Linked DNA regions of Homo sapiens. Each later gene encodes a partner of the first gene's protein in a complex. Each region holds a gene or a part of one and is shown on either strand. Other genes may lie near its edges. A codon is read from its position in the direction of its gene.

Evidence for each region.
Region 2: the proteins of RGS10 (region 1) and GNAI3 are in contact, whole or in part, in a crystal structure (PDB 2IHB), measured with the Homo sapiens proteins. Residues at the interface, in NP_001005339.1 of Homo sapiens: Glu62, Phe63, Ser64, Glu66, Asn67, Ala102, Ser103, Ser104, Gln105, Val106, Asn107, Val108, Glu109, Gly110, Leu137 (codon at 949), Lys139 (codon at 943), Tyr140 (codon at 940), Asp141 (codon at 937), Ser142 (codon at 934), Arg145 (codon at 925); in NP_006487.1 of Homo sapiens: Val71, Val72, Ser75, Glu115, Val179, Lys180, Thr181, Thr182, Gly183, Ile184, Val185, Gln204, Ser206, Glu207, Lys209, Lys210, His213, Ala235, Glu236.

Annotation. Positions count from the first base shown.
Region 1 is NC_000010.11:119,499,302-119,504,808, forward strand, and holds the end of RGS10 (regulator of G-protein signaling 10), read right to left. Parts: intron 959-5,507; coding exon 812-958; 3' UTR 516-811; downstream 1-515. UniProt on the Homo sapiens protein: Regulates G protein-coupled receptor signaling cascades, including signaling downstream of the muscarinic acetylcholine receptor CHRM2.
Region 2 is NC_000001.11:109,586,612-109,593,715, reverse strand, and holds part of GNAI3 (guanine nucleotide-binding protein G(i) subunit alpha-3), read right to left. Parts: intron 6,988-7,104; coding exon 6,834-6,987; intron 1,674-6,833; coding exon 1,483-1,673; 3' UTR 1,461-1,482; intron 1,372-1,460; 3' UTR 1-1,371. UniProt on the Homo sapiens protein: Heterotrimeric guanine nucleotide-binding proteins (G proteins) function as transducers downstream of G protein-coupled receptors (GPCRs) in numerous signaling cascades.

The DNA.
Region 1 (5,507 bases):
GGAAAGGATTATGATGTGTCCCCGATGGGTACAGGAGAAGGGAACAGCCCCACCAACTCCAACCTCAGTACGCACCTGTGCTACAATCCCATTCAACAACACCTTGAGTTGCCATGGGGACCCTGAACAATTTCCCACTTGTGTTTTTTTTCCTTCCTGGTTGAGATCTTGTTTCTGTCAAGATGAACTATTTATCTGTGTTGCATGAAATGTCATGGGTTGTGGTCAAAACCAGGACCAACCCACGCACAAGAAATAATAACCCTTTGATGACACTCACACACAAGCTTCCCAAGTCTTTAGAGGCTGTCAGTGATTCATTTTCTTTTTCCAGCACTGAACTTGCTCTCGAGAAATATTTAACCCAAAAGGCGACTGGCAGGCCATACCCCCAGTAGCCTGGGTTTGCCGGATCAACTCATGTTTGAGTTAATTTACCAAGTGACCTGTGGACATGCGTCCACTCACCAGAGAGGCAGAGCAAACACTTACAAGGTAAAAGGTAGTGTGATACGTTTCACCTTGTGGCCTTACATGAGGTTTAATTAAGCTACAAAATGCTCGACGTGTCCAGTGTTGAAGGAATCTCTGTTTTGTAAACTAAAACTTCCAAGTTATTATTATTCTTTTTTTATGTTAGCTTAGCCATCATGCAAAATTTACTGGTGAAGCAGTTAATAAAACACACATCCCATTGAAGGGTTTTGTACATTTCAGTCCTTACAAATAACAAAGCAATGATAAACCCGGCACGGTCCTGAGAGGAAATTCCTTTGCTTCTTAAAGCTGCCAGTCCCGGCTTTTTGGGGGCTCATGTGTTATAAATTCTGGAAGCTCTTTTAGCTGCAGTTTGAGCATCAGGCAAATCTTCTTCCTCTTCCTCGGTTCGCTTGTGTTTTAAAAACAAGTCAGACTTTAAGAAGCGGCTGTAGCTGTCGTACTTCATGAGATTAAAGATCTAAGGAGGAAAAGAAAAAAGAGTCTGAAGGCTGAGGCTAATCCAGGCCATAAATCATCCCATCAGATATGTATTAATACCTACCATGTGCCAAAGAATACTAACATGTGCAAAGAACACACTAAGAAAGCTCAAATAAGTCATCTGCTAGACAAGGCAGATTTCCTGGAGATTTTTGGTCATTATGCAATAATCTCAATGGAATATATAGACAGTCACATGAACAAATATGCCTTTATTTTCCACGGAAATATAGATTCACACAGCACTGATTCAGACCCTTGTACCAAGAAGTCCTTCAAGACTCTCCACTTTATTTGCCTAGATAAGACAAGGATGTATTTCTCCAAGAGCTTGAGACAGCCGAATAGAAACCATTTCTGTAGAGACAGTGGTGTTAAAAAGATCACTGACATATCATATGATGCCAGCATTGTTAAGACTCCCAGTAAGTCTGGCATCCGAGATCTCAAACAAACCTATTATTGTACCAGGAGTCAAAATGAGGCGTGCTCACTGCAGGGCAGGGCAGCAAAACTATAATCTTAGCAAGGGAACAGGTCCCAAATAAAGAATAGAGCAGCCAGCTGCAGAATGCCAACATCTGTGCCATCAGACAGGCTGGGGAGCACATCCCTAGAATGAAACAACTCTAAGGTATGTCAGGTGAGCGAAGAGGACACCCGACAGAGCTGAAGTGCCCCAGATTAGACGGCTGCCCCCGCCGGCATGGCAGGTGCTCAGAGGGCTGTCCCCAGGCACAGTAGCTTCCTCTGGCCGCCACTGAACCTCTTTTCTGGGCCACAGTCCTTGTGACCAGCATTCATTCTCCCCCACTGCTACCCAATCCTGTGCCATCTGCCCTCCTCCCTTGCCCCAGGAAAGGGGCAGAGAAAGAGAAGCACAAAGCCTTTTCCAGCTGTCAAGGGCTATGATCTCTTTCCCACCCCTCATTTCTCTCTCTCTCAGACCTTTCCACTTAACTCGCAGTACACTCTGCAACTAAAAATCCACATGGTTCACCCTGGTACACGGAACAACCAAGTGGAAAGTTCCAGAGATGTCTAGAATGTCACTGACTGCCAGGCGGGGTTGTCAAGTGGATGGTAAAACCCTGACATCTTTTAAGGCTGCCCTCTCCCAACACACATACACTATTTTGTAAATTAAACATCTGAGGGTGCTGGGGGCGGTGGCTCACACCTGTAATCCCAGCACTTTGGGAGGTGGAGGCAGGTGGATCACTTGAGGTCAGGAGTTCAAGACCAGCCTGGCCAATATGGTGAAACCCCGTCTCTACTAAAAATACAAAAATTAGCCGAGCGTGGTGGCACACACCTGTAGTCCCAGCTATTCAGGAGGCTGAGGCCAAAGAATCACTTGAACCCAGGAGGCAAAGGCTGCAGTGAGCTGAGATCACACCACTGCACTCCAGCCTGGGCAACAGAGTGAGACTCTGTCTCAAAAAAAAAGAAATAAAATAAAAATTAAAAATAAAACAAACATCTGAGGGACTCAAAGGACTCAGAACATCTGCTTGGAGGATGGGAGGTGCTTCAGGAGGGAACTGGAACCCTCAAATTTTACACCTTCATCTTCCCAAGATGGCTTCAACCACAGCAGAACTGCCTGAGTCACTGTGCTATAAACAGAGTCCACAACCCAGAGAAAGACCTGGGACTTTAGGTTTTCTTTAAACTGTTAAACTAGCGCCTGCCCATCCCCTGGTGCCCTTCTAGTCTTGCCCGAGTCCTCCAGCTGCTCAGCAAGACCCTGCCTCCTTAAGCCCCTGTCCTGTGCCACACTAGAGCAGTCATCTATCTTGTAGCCATCCTGTAATTCCAGGTGTGATTGTAATTTGCTGAGGTTTACAGAAAAAAAAAACAAACTTTTTTTTAATCCCAGAAAATACAAAAATCATAGCCAGGGCTGAGGTGGGGGATGAGAAACGCCATTACTCCTTCATGGCCTCCCACCGACGTGCTAAGCAAGCGTCACCATCTGCCTTATTCAGCCCTTCCAGGCACAAGAGTCCCCAAGGGGAAACTTTCAGAGGCTCACCTAGTTCAAAGTCTGCAATGAACGCTCAAATGTGACTAATGAAACCAGTTGCACGAAGGTCCCACCTGGCACCCAGCCTCAGTCCTGTACCCACTCCCACCCCAGGTCCACGCAGATGGGACCCACCACTCTAAGCAGGATGCGGTGCGACCCAAGCGTCTCGTGTGAAGTCTGCATGTGGGAGAGGAACATCCTGTTTGCCTGTAGTGGCTCTGAGGCTCAGACTTCAAAGTAGAGAAGAAAAAAGGCCGGTGCTGGGGGCACCCAGGGCAGAGGAGGAGGGGGAGGGAAGGAGGCTGCTTCGGCTGGGAGGAAGCTCAGGGGCTGCACCGGGCTGGCAGGACTCGACCCCGAGATCCCGAGATCCCAAGGCTGCCAGCAAGCCTGAGGGGAGGGGGCTGCGAACTATTTATTAAGAGCATAAGGGCCACTCCCTACTGGGGCAGGTGTGAAATGCCCCACGAGTGCAGAAGTCCCTCAGGCAGAGGTTTCCTCCTCTGAGAGCCCTTGCCCATCTCCCGTGCTGCTGCAGTGACTGGGAGGCAGCTGTGGCTGTTGGACCCAGACAGGCTGGAGAAAGGAGAGGATGTCGCCCCCAAAGCCCTCGTGCGCCTGGGCTGTGGGAAGCCTGATTGCTTTACATGGGGTGCACGGGCAGACTTCTGACTGCCACCGGCCAACGACCCCCTGGGCCTGGCTCAGGAGCACACAGCAACAGGGTGCTCCTGGGACGGGGCTCAGCAAAGGTGACTTAGAGGATGGAGAATGCAACTAAGGCCGGGTGCGGTGGCTCATGCCTGAAACTCCAGCACTTTGGGAGGCTGAGGCGGGCGGATAGCAAAATCCTGTCTCTACTAAAAATATAAAAATTAGCAGGGCTTGGTGGCACCCACCTGTAGTCCCAGCTACTAAGGAGGCTGAGGTGGGAGGATCACCTAAGCCCGCGGAGGTTGAGGCTGCAGTGAGCTAAGATCACGCCACTGCACTCCATCCTGGGTGATAGAGCCAGACCCTGTCTCAAAAAAAAAAAAAAAAGAGAATGCACCTAAAACTTTCTTCCAAGAAAGTGGCCAGAGATCGTGTGCCCAGCTACTGGCCAGAGCCTCATCTATCACAGGGAAAAGAGCTGTGACTGGGGCCCAGTAAGTGTTTACCAGTGGCTGAAGAGAAATCGTGCGCTGTGCAGCAGCAGAGGCTGGGGAAATGAACCCGGCTAGTACCAACGCGGCTGCAGTGCCCTCCAGCCCTGCGCTGGGCAGCGTGTGGGCATTCTTTCATTCAGTTCTCCCTCCAGCGCTCTGAAGACCCCCATTTGACAGAGGAAGAAACGAGGGGCTTAGGGGTTCCTCACAGTTCTGGAGGCTAGAAGTCCAAGTCAAGGTGCCATCAGGGTTGGTTTCTCCTGAGGCCGCTGTCCTCGGCTCGTAGACCACACCTTCTCCCTGCGTCTTCACAGGGTCTCCCCGGTGCACGTGTGTCCTTACCTCCTCTTCTCACAAGGACACTAGTCAGATTGGGTTAGAGCTCACCTCAATGTCCTTGTTTAATGTTAATTACCCCTTTAAAGCCCTATCTCCAAATAAAGTCACATTCTGGGGATTAGGACTTCAACATATGGATTAGGGAGGGGAGCACAGTTCAGCCCATAACAGTGAGCAAAAGAGAAGGGCGGAAGGCCAGCCCTGGCAGGCTCTGCAGCCCCCACTCCCAACCATGAGGCCATCTGCCACTCGCATGGCAGGACAATAAAAACGAGGGCTGCAAAGAGAGTAACATGGAAAACTGCCCGTGAATGTTAAATGACTGATACTAAATTTTAAAAACACACCCTATCTAAAAACAATGATCCCAAATACGTTCTTTTTTGTTGTTGTTGTTTGCTTTTTTGAGATGGAGTCCCACTCTGTCACCCAGGCTGGAGTGCAGTGGCACGATCTTGGCTCACTGCAAACTCCGCCTCCTGGGTTCAAGCGATTCTCCTGCTTCTGCCTCCTGAGTAGCTGTGATTACAGGTGTGCGCCACCACACCCAGCTAAGTAGAGACGGGGTTTCACCACATTGACCAGGCTGGTCTCAAACTCCTGACCTCAGGTGATCCACCCTCCTAGGCCTCCCAAAGTGCCGGGATTACAGGCATGAGCCACCACGCCCGGCTCCAAATACATTCTTTAAGAGTGTATCCATGTGTCTAAGTGAGAAACAATATGTCCCCAAAGGTCAGTAGTGGGGTGAATGGTGTTCCCCCAAACTTACATTCACCTCGAATCTCAGAATGGACCTCATTTGAAAAGAGGGTTGCATAAGGGTCTCAAAATAAAATCATACTGCATTTAGGGTAGGCCCTAAATCCAGGGACTGGGTGTCCTTATCAGAAGAGGAGGGGACACACTGAGGGAAGAAGGCGTGTGAAGGCAGAGGGAGACATCGGTGATGCAGCCACGTGCCAAGGAGCGCTAAGGAGTGCCGGCAGCCACCAGCAGTCTGTAAG
Region 2 (7,104 bases), on another chromosome or scaffold:
ATCATGATCACATATCACTCATATGCAGATATAACATAAAACCTAAGGTTCAACAATACTATTACACCAAAAGACTAGACTTTCAGGAAACCCTTCTACCTAAACCCATTCTCAGACAAAGGCTAAAGCACATTCTGCAAAGGCAAAAGGAAACAGAAGACAGTATTTCCAGAAAAGACTAGTTACAAACAGGAGCAAACCTGGGCTCTTTACTCACCATTTTAATACTGCCGCCAACTATAACAGATTAAAAATGTACACATGACAAAGTGGAAAAAAGTCCCAAAATGCAACAGTTTCAGCAAAAGAACATACTGGCTAAGGATTACTACAGTTAACATCGGTACAGTAAAAACGATGGCAAACAGGGATTTGGCACCACATTTACAAAGTAAAAGCATGCACTGTTAATACACTTTAGATGTTTCTCAACAGAAAAGGCCATGAAGATGGAAAACAAGAGGCACCATGTACAAAACTCCCTATAACTGAGACAAACAAGCAAGAATCAAAGTGGTCAATTTAGTAAATATGTAGCAGCAAAGTCACTGGTTCTGTTTGGAATTTAGCAATTTGCATTTCTGATTGGCAGCTGCCCTGGGTGTGTCTGTATCCAAGAAGCTGACTTTATCATACTACATCAGCAGTAATTTGGTAATCTGCACAAACAAGGTTAACCTTCAACCATAAGCTTAAAGAAAAGAGAGAACTAGAATCTTATTGCAGAACTTTCCAATGTAATTACCATATGGAAACCATAATGGTACTTTGAGCAGGATAATAACATAAATTTCATTTAAAAAGTTGTATTTATAGCCCCAGTAACCGGAAAGAATTATAAGTAATTATGGAAGTATTATATTCTGACCATACCAAGAGTTAAAAACAAAGAGTTCCTACTAAAGAGGAATATTTTCAAGATGATCTGGTCACATCATGTGCATAGTTAAGATTGTTTGTTTTAATAAAGATTCTTTTGCAAATAAAGAAATAAAATTTAGTAAAGTTATTCTTCTCTTGATGAAAAAACCTTAAAAATGAACCACTGGTGGTTTAAGAAGGGGGGAAAAAAAGAGTAAGCTACATATTGAAGTTCTAGAATGCAGCACCTCAACTTCACATCTTCCATAAGCATTTAAGATTAAGAAATCCAAGTGATGTCTTGACGATCGAATCACACTTTATAGTTCTTCCAATTCCAATGTCTGACTTTAGCATCTCATGTCAATTAAAAGTTCCCTAATACAAAATATTGTGCTAAAGAGTGCTAAGATTCTGCATGCTGCTGCCATTCCCTGGTCCCGTTCATGCTTGTAGCTGCCCCATGAGACAGCAAAAGGTGTCTGGTCTCAACACTCCACACTGTAGTAACTAGAAGAGAAGAATATTCTTAATTAGAAAAAGTTTAAAAACCAAGAGACATCACTGTAGCACTATAACTACCTTGTATGAAACTTTACCTTTCACTAACATCCATGCTTCTCAATAAAGTCCACATTCCTTTAAGTTGTTTTTAATGATGACATCTGTAACAGCATCAAAAACAAACTGCACATTCTTCGTGTCTGTGGCACAGGTGAAGTGAGTATAGATCTCCTTGGTATCTTTTCTTCTGTTCAGATCTTCAAACTGGCATTGAATATAGGCAGCTGCCTCTTCATATGTATTGGAACCTAAAACGGACACCCAGTACTCTCAGTTCAAATTGTAACAGCTGCCTGAACTCAACTAAGTCAGACCATTACCATTTACTTATGGAGAGGGAACATAACCCAATTAAATATGAGTAGAATTCTCTATTTCTATAATCATTAGGTGTTTCTATAATTAGGTTCTTCGTGAGAGTGGACTCTCATGGTAACAAAATAAAATCATCAAACACAAAGATTGAGGAAAACATAACGTTAAATTTCTCTTTACCTTTTCATTTAGACTTTTCAGCTAAAAAAATCTAGAAAGTATAAAAGGAAACTAGGAAAGTAGGAAGGTGCATTTCTAGGGAACACAACTGCTTAAAAGGTCTGAGAGAGGCTGTGTTCCTTGGAGTGATCTTGGAATAAAAATTCAACAGGGTAGTGCTTGCTTTGGTAGCACATGTACTAAAATTGGAACAATACAGAGAAGATTAGCACAGTCCCCGCGCAAGGATGACACGCAAATTCGTGAAGCGTTCCATATTTTTTAAAACAACTGGGTCGGATCATGCTAAAAGGAGATAATATTACTCTGCTACAAAGTGTCTCCAACTAGAAAGGATCAATGAAGTGAGAAATTGTTGAGAAGGATACAGTTTGCTTTTAGATGTCCTTTTTCCAATATGAACATTCATTCATAGTGTTTTGATTACCCTTATGTTACTAAAAGATGGCAATAAACGCTATGGGATTGTTTGTATTAAAACAAAAAAAAAAGGAATTCAACAAGGTAAATTGTTCTTTTCAAAATCATTCCACAGTTTTAAAGAGGTTTAGCTTCAAAGCCTTAAGGTAATAATTTAAATAAGGAAAAGCAATACACTTTAAAAGAGTGAATTTTAGGGTTTCCCAATTATATCTCAATGAAGCTATTATTTTTTACAAAAAGAAAGGTGACAGGAACCAAAAGCAAAGCCTGTCTCAACAATATTTGTAATTAATACCCTTAAATCACCTGCTTTTTACACCATCTTGTCTACTTATAGAACCTTTAGAGTAGCCTTAGAAACTGGCTATAAAGCCAGGGAAACGCAACAAAGACAATTCATTATTCCAATAAACTACAGGCTATTTTCAGTAACGTGAAGCATAACAAAAATATCAATAACAAAGATATAAAGAAGACCAGGTAACAAAACGGAGCTTAAGAAAAAAGGAGCTGGGTGCGGTGGCTCACATCTGTAATCCCTGCACTTTGGGGGCCGCAGCAGGTGGATCGCTTGAGGTCAGGAGTTCAACACCAGCCTGGCTAACTTAGTGAAACCACATCTCTACTAAAAATCAAAAAATCATTAGCTAGGCCTGGTGGTGGGCACCTGTAGTAGAGCTGAGGCACAAGAAGCACTTGAATCTGGGAGGTGGAGGTTGCAGTGAGCCGAGATCATGCCACTGCATTTCTGTCTGGGAGACAGAGCAAGACACTGTCTCAAAAAAAAAAAAGGAAAGGAAAAGAATATTAATTAAAATATTTAAAGAACTGAAGGAAAACAGCTTTGTAGGTGCTTGAAGCAGGTTCTTAAAATCTGGAAAACAACCTCTGTAAATTAAAGGAGGCAGATGAGTGAAAAGTGAATTTTGTCTGCTAGGAACAGATAATAATACCTGGCAAATAAGGACCGTAAGAATCTGTACACAGAATGAAGACAATGGAGGATAGGCTTGGAAGTTAACAACAACAAAGAAAATGGAAATGATATTAAAGGCTCTTTGCTTTGTGTGAAGACTCTAAGCTGGGCCTTCAACATTAATGCCAATTATTTTACTTGTCTTACATCTCTCTCCCCCAATCCTAAAACTTGGTTGCTTTCTATAAACTCACCTTATTCTCACCTCCCTCTGTTCTTTACTCTGAACAGGTAACCACATTTCCAACTTCCTTGATAAAACAGAGGCCATGAGGATTAAACTACATCTCAACTTTTTGGCCTACCACCTCACTCAAAATGTTACATATCTGCACTTATTTGTACTTCTGGTCTTAGAGGTGTCTTACTTCTTGCTCAAAAATCAATTGCTCTACCTATACTCTTTTAAAAAAATTATTGAGGAAAATTAACATAACAGATATTTAACCATTTTAAAGTGTACAATTCTGTGGCACTTAGTGTATTCACAATGTTATGCAATCACCACCTCTCTCTAGTGACAAAACTTTTTCAACACCCTATTCCCATTAAGTAATCACTCCCTTTTCTTCCCATTCTCCCACTTCTCATAACCACTAATATTCTTTCTGTCTCTATGGACAGAAATTGCCCTATTTTGGATATATCATATAATAGAAGTATTGGCCTCTTTTACTTAGCACAGTGTTTTGAGTTTCATACAAGTTGTACCATCTATTATTATTCCTTTTCTTGGGTAAGTAATATTCATTGTATGTATATAACACAATTTGTTTATCCATTTATCCTACCTAGACTCTTAATTCCTTTTTTCCCACCTGCTTGCAAATCTTGCTCCTTCAATTACATCTGTTTTTTAATGTATCTCTTTTGCTTATAGGATCTTAGCCCTCAGCCTATAAACATTCTTAAATCTCTCCCTTCCCTTTAAACCCACGTTGCTCAAGAGTAGTCTACACTTGTCTTCTTTCTTCACTTTCCATTCTGTAACTCACTGTACTCAACTTTCCACTGACACTGCTCTCAACAGCAGGTCAACGACCTCCTAACTGTTAACTCCAAAGGCTCTTTTTCAGTATGTATCTTACTTATCTGCAGATAACACTGTTGACTGAAATATTTAATCAACTCACTTTTTAACCTCTCCTTTTGGTTATGATATCTTTCTTCCTCTCCTGCCAATAGAGGCTGCTATTCTCTCTCGTTCTACCTGTGGTCCTTTTTCTCCTCATTCTATAATATTATCTCCATAGGTCATTTCACCCATTTCCATGTTTTCACTACTGATGATCTCAAACCCCAACCTCTCCTCAACCTCGAATATAACTGTCCATGAGATATTATTTCAACGTTCTATGAATAATTAAAAATCAACATTCCTATACATGAATTCAGGTCACAGCACCAGCATCCAAGACAGAAACCTGGGAGTACCTCTGACTCTTCCCACTTCCTTACCCCTGCTTTACCCCTTCACTTTATTGATTGATTGATTGATTGATTGATTGATGGAGTCTCACTCTGTCACCAGGCTGGAGTGCAGTGGTGCGATCTCGGCTCACCGCAACCTCCGCCTCCCGGGTTCAAGCGATTCTCCTGCCTCAGCCTCCCGAGTAGCTGGGATTACAGGCGCACACCACCATGCCCAGCTAATTTTTCTATTTTTAGTAGAGACAGGGTTTCACCACATTGGTCAGGATGGTCTCGATCTCTTGACCTCATGATCCACCTGCCACGGCCTCCCAAAGTGCTGGGATTACAGGCATGAGCCACTGCACCCAGCCTCACTTTATTATAGAAAGCATTTACAGTGTCTCTGCTAATAAGAGTTCCCCTTCTCTGGAAATACCTGATTCTGATCTATAAGTTTCATAGTGATCCATCCCTGGCAGTTACATTTGTGCCCCTGACCTCAACTGATTGGCCTACAGATTTCTGCCTGACTTAACCACGGCCAGAATCTCTCTCCTTGGAATTTGAAACCAAGGCCAAGCAATCCCAGTCTAGTCTGATCTTTTTTTTTTTTTTGCTCAGTCGCCCAGGCTGGAGTGCAGTGGCGCGATCTCGGCTCACTGCAAGCTCTGCCTCCCGGGTTCATGCCATTCTCCTGCCTCAGCCTCCCGAGTAGCTGGGACTACAGGTGCCTGCCACCAAGCCCAACTAATTTTTTTTGTATTTTTAGTGGAGACGGGGTTTCACTGTGTTAGCCAGGATGGTCTCGATCTCCTAACCTCATGATTCACCCGCCTCGGCCTCCCAAAGTGCTGGGATTACAGGCGTGAGCCACCGCGCCCAGCCTAGTCTGATCTTTTTACCAGAGATACAGAAACTGTGACTAGGCTGTTATCACATAAACTGAATAGCAGAGAAAGCTGGTTAGGAAAGAAAGAATAATAAAAAAGATACACAGAGAGGAGAGAAAAAAGATGGGGATAAAGAGTGCTTCCAGGGTTCCTGACAATTATTTCCTAGTTCTAATTCCATTCTAAGACCTGTCCATTCTTGCCCTTGGGTTCTATGATATATCCCTTAATCCCCATCAAAAGTTTTTATTTCCATCCTGAGTTCTTACTAATTCAAATCCCCTACTATCTATCTTTATTATTTATTGCATAATCTTTCTCAAGCACAGTTTCTTCTATATCATGCACCCCATGATATGGATCATGGTAGGATATTAAACCTTTAACTGATCATCGTCTCAGCATGAGATATAAGGCCCTCCATGAGTTGATCTCTGACCATCTCTCCAACCACTTCTTCCCTGCCACTGTAAACTCTAGTAATACCAAATTCCTTCTGGGTTCCACAACTGGTCATACCATTTTCCTACCTCCATATTCTCATATATGCAATTCCTCTTTTCTAAAATGCTTTTATTCCCGTCTGCCTGATGATTTCTATTTCATCCTCTTAGTAGCTCTAGAAAAAGACTACAGTGACCCCATCAGAAGTAACCACTTCTATTCCACTTCTATTAATGCATATTTTACACTATAATAAAATTATTTATGTGCAATTAAACACTATAATAAAATTATTTATGTCTCTCTGCAACTACATGTCAGTCTCTTGGGCACAATGATTAAAATTTACCCTTGTATTTTCTTCAACATATACCAAATTTTACTTTATTTTTTGTGAGGCAGGGGGGTGTCACTATGTTGCCTAGACTGATCTCAAACTCTTGGGCTCAAATGATCCTCCTGCCTCAAGCTTCCAAGTAGCTAGAATTATAGCCACCATGCCCAGCTCCCAAATTTACTTTTTCTCCTTTTGTATTTTCCTCAAAAAATGAAGATAGAAATTTAAAATAAACACAGAAAACTCAATTGTGTCTGATATGGCACTCTTGACTTAGGGGCTTTTAATCACAGGCTTAATGCCAATGCCACTACCACTGAATACTCTCCCAATCAATCATTAAAAAAAAAAAGGCAGTTTTATGAATGCCACCAAAGTGTTGATCTAAGTAAGATGTGTACCTCCAATAAAATCTTTCATAACCCCTTACCTGTGTATTCTGGATAACAGATAGTTAACGGACTCCTCTTTATTTTTTCCTCAAAAAGGTCTTTCTTGTTAAGGAAGAGAATGATTGAAGTTTCTGTAAACCATTTGTTATTACAAATGCTGTCAAACAGTTTCATGCTTTCATGCATTCGGTTCTGAAAAAGAAATAAAGGATGATAGGTCAGTAGCAAATAGTAAAAGTGGATTAAGTTAATGAAAAAGACAAACCAACAAGTTTTGCAGCACTAAATGGCATTCACGGAAATAAGTCA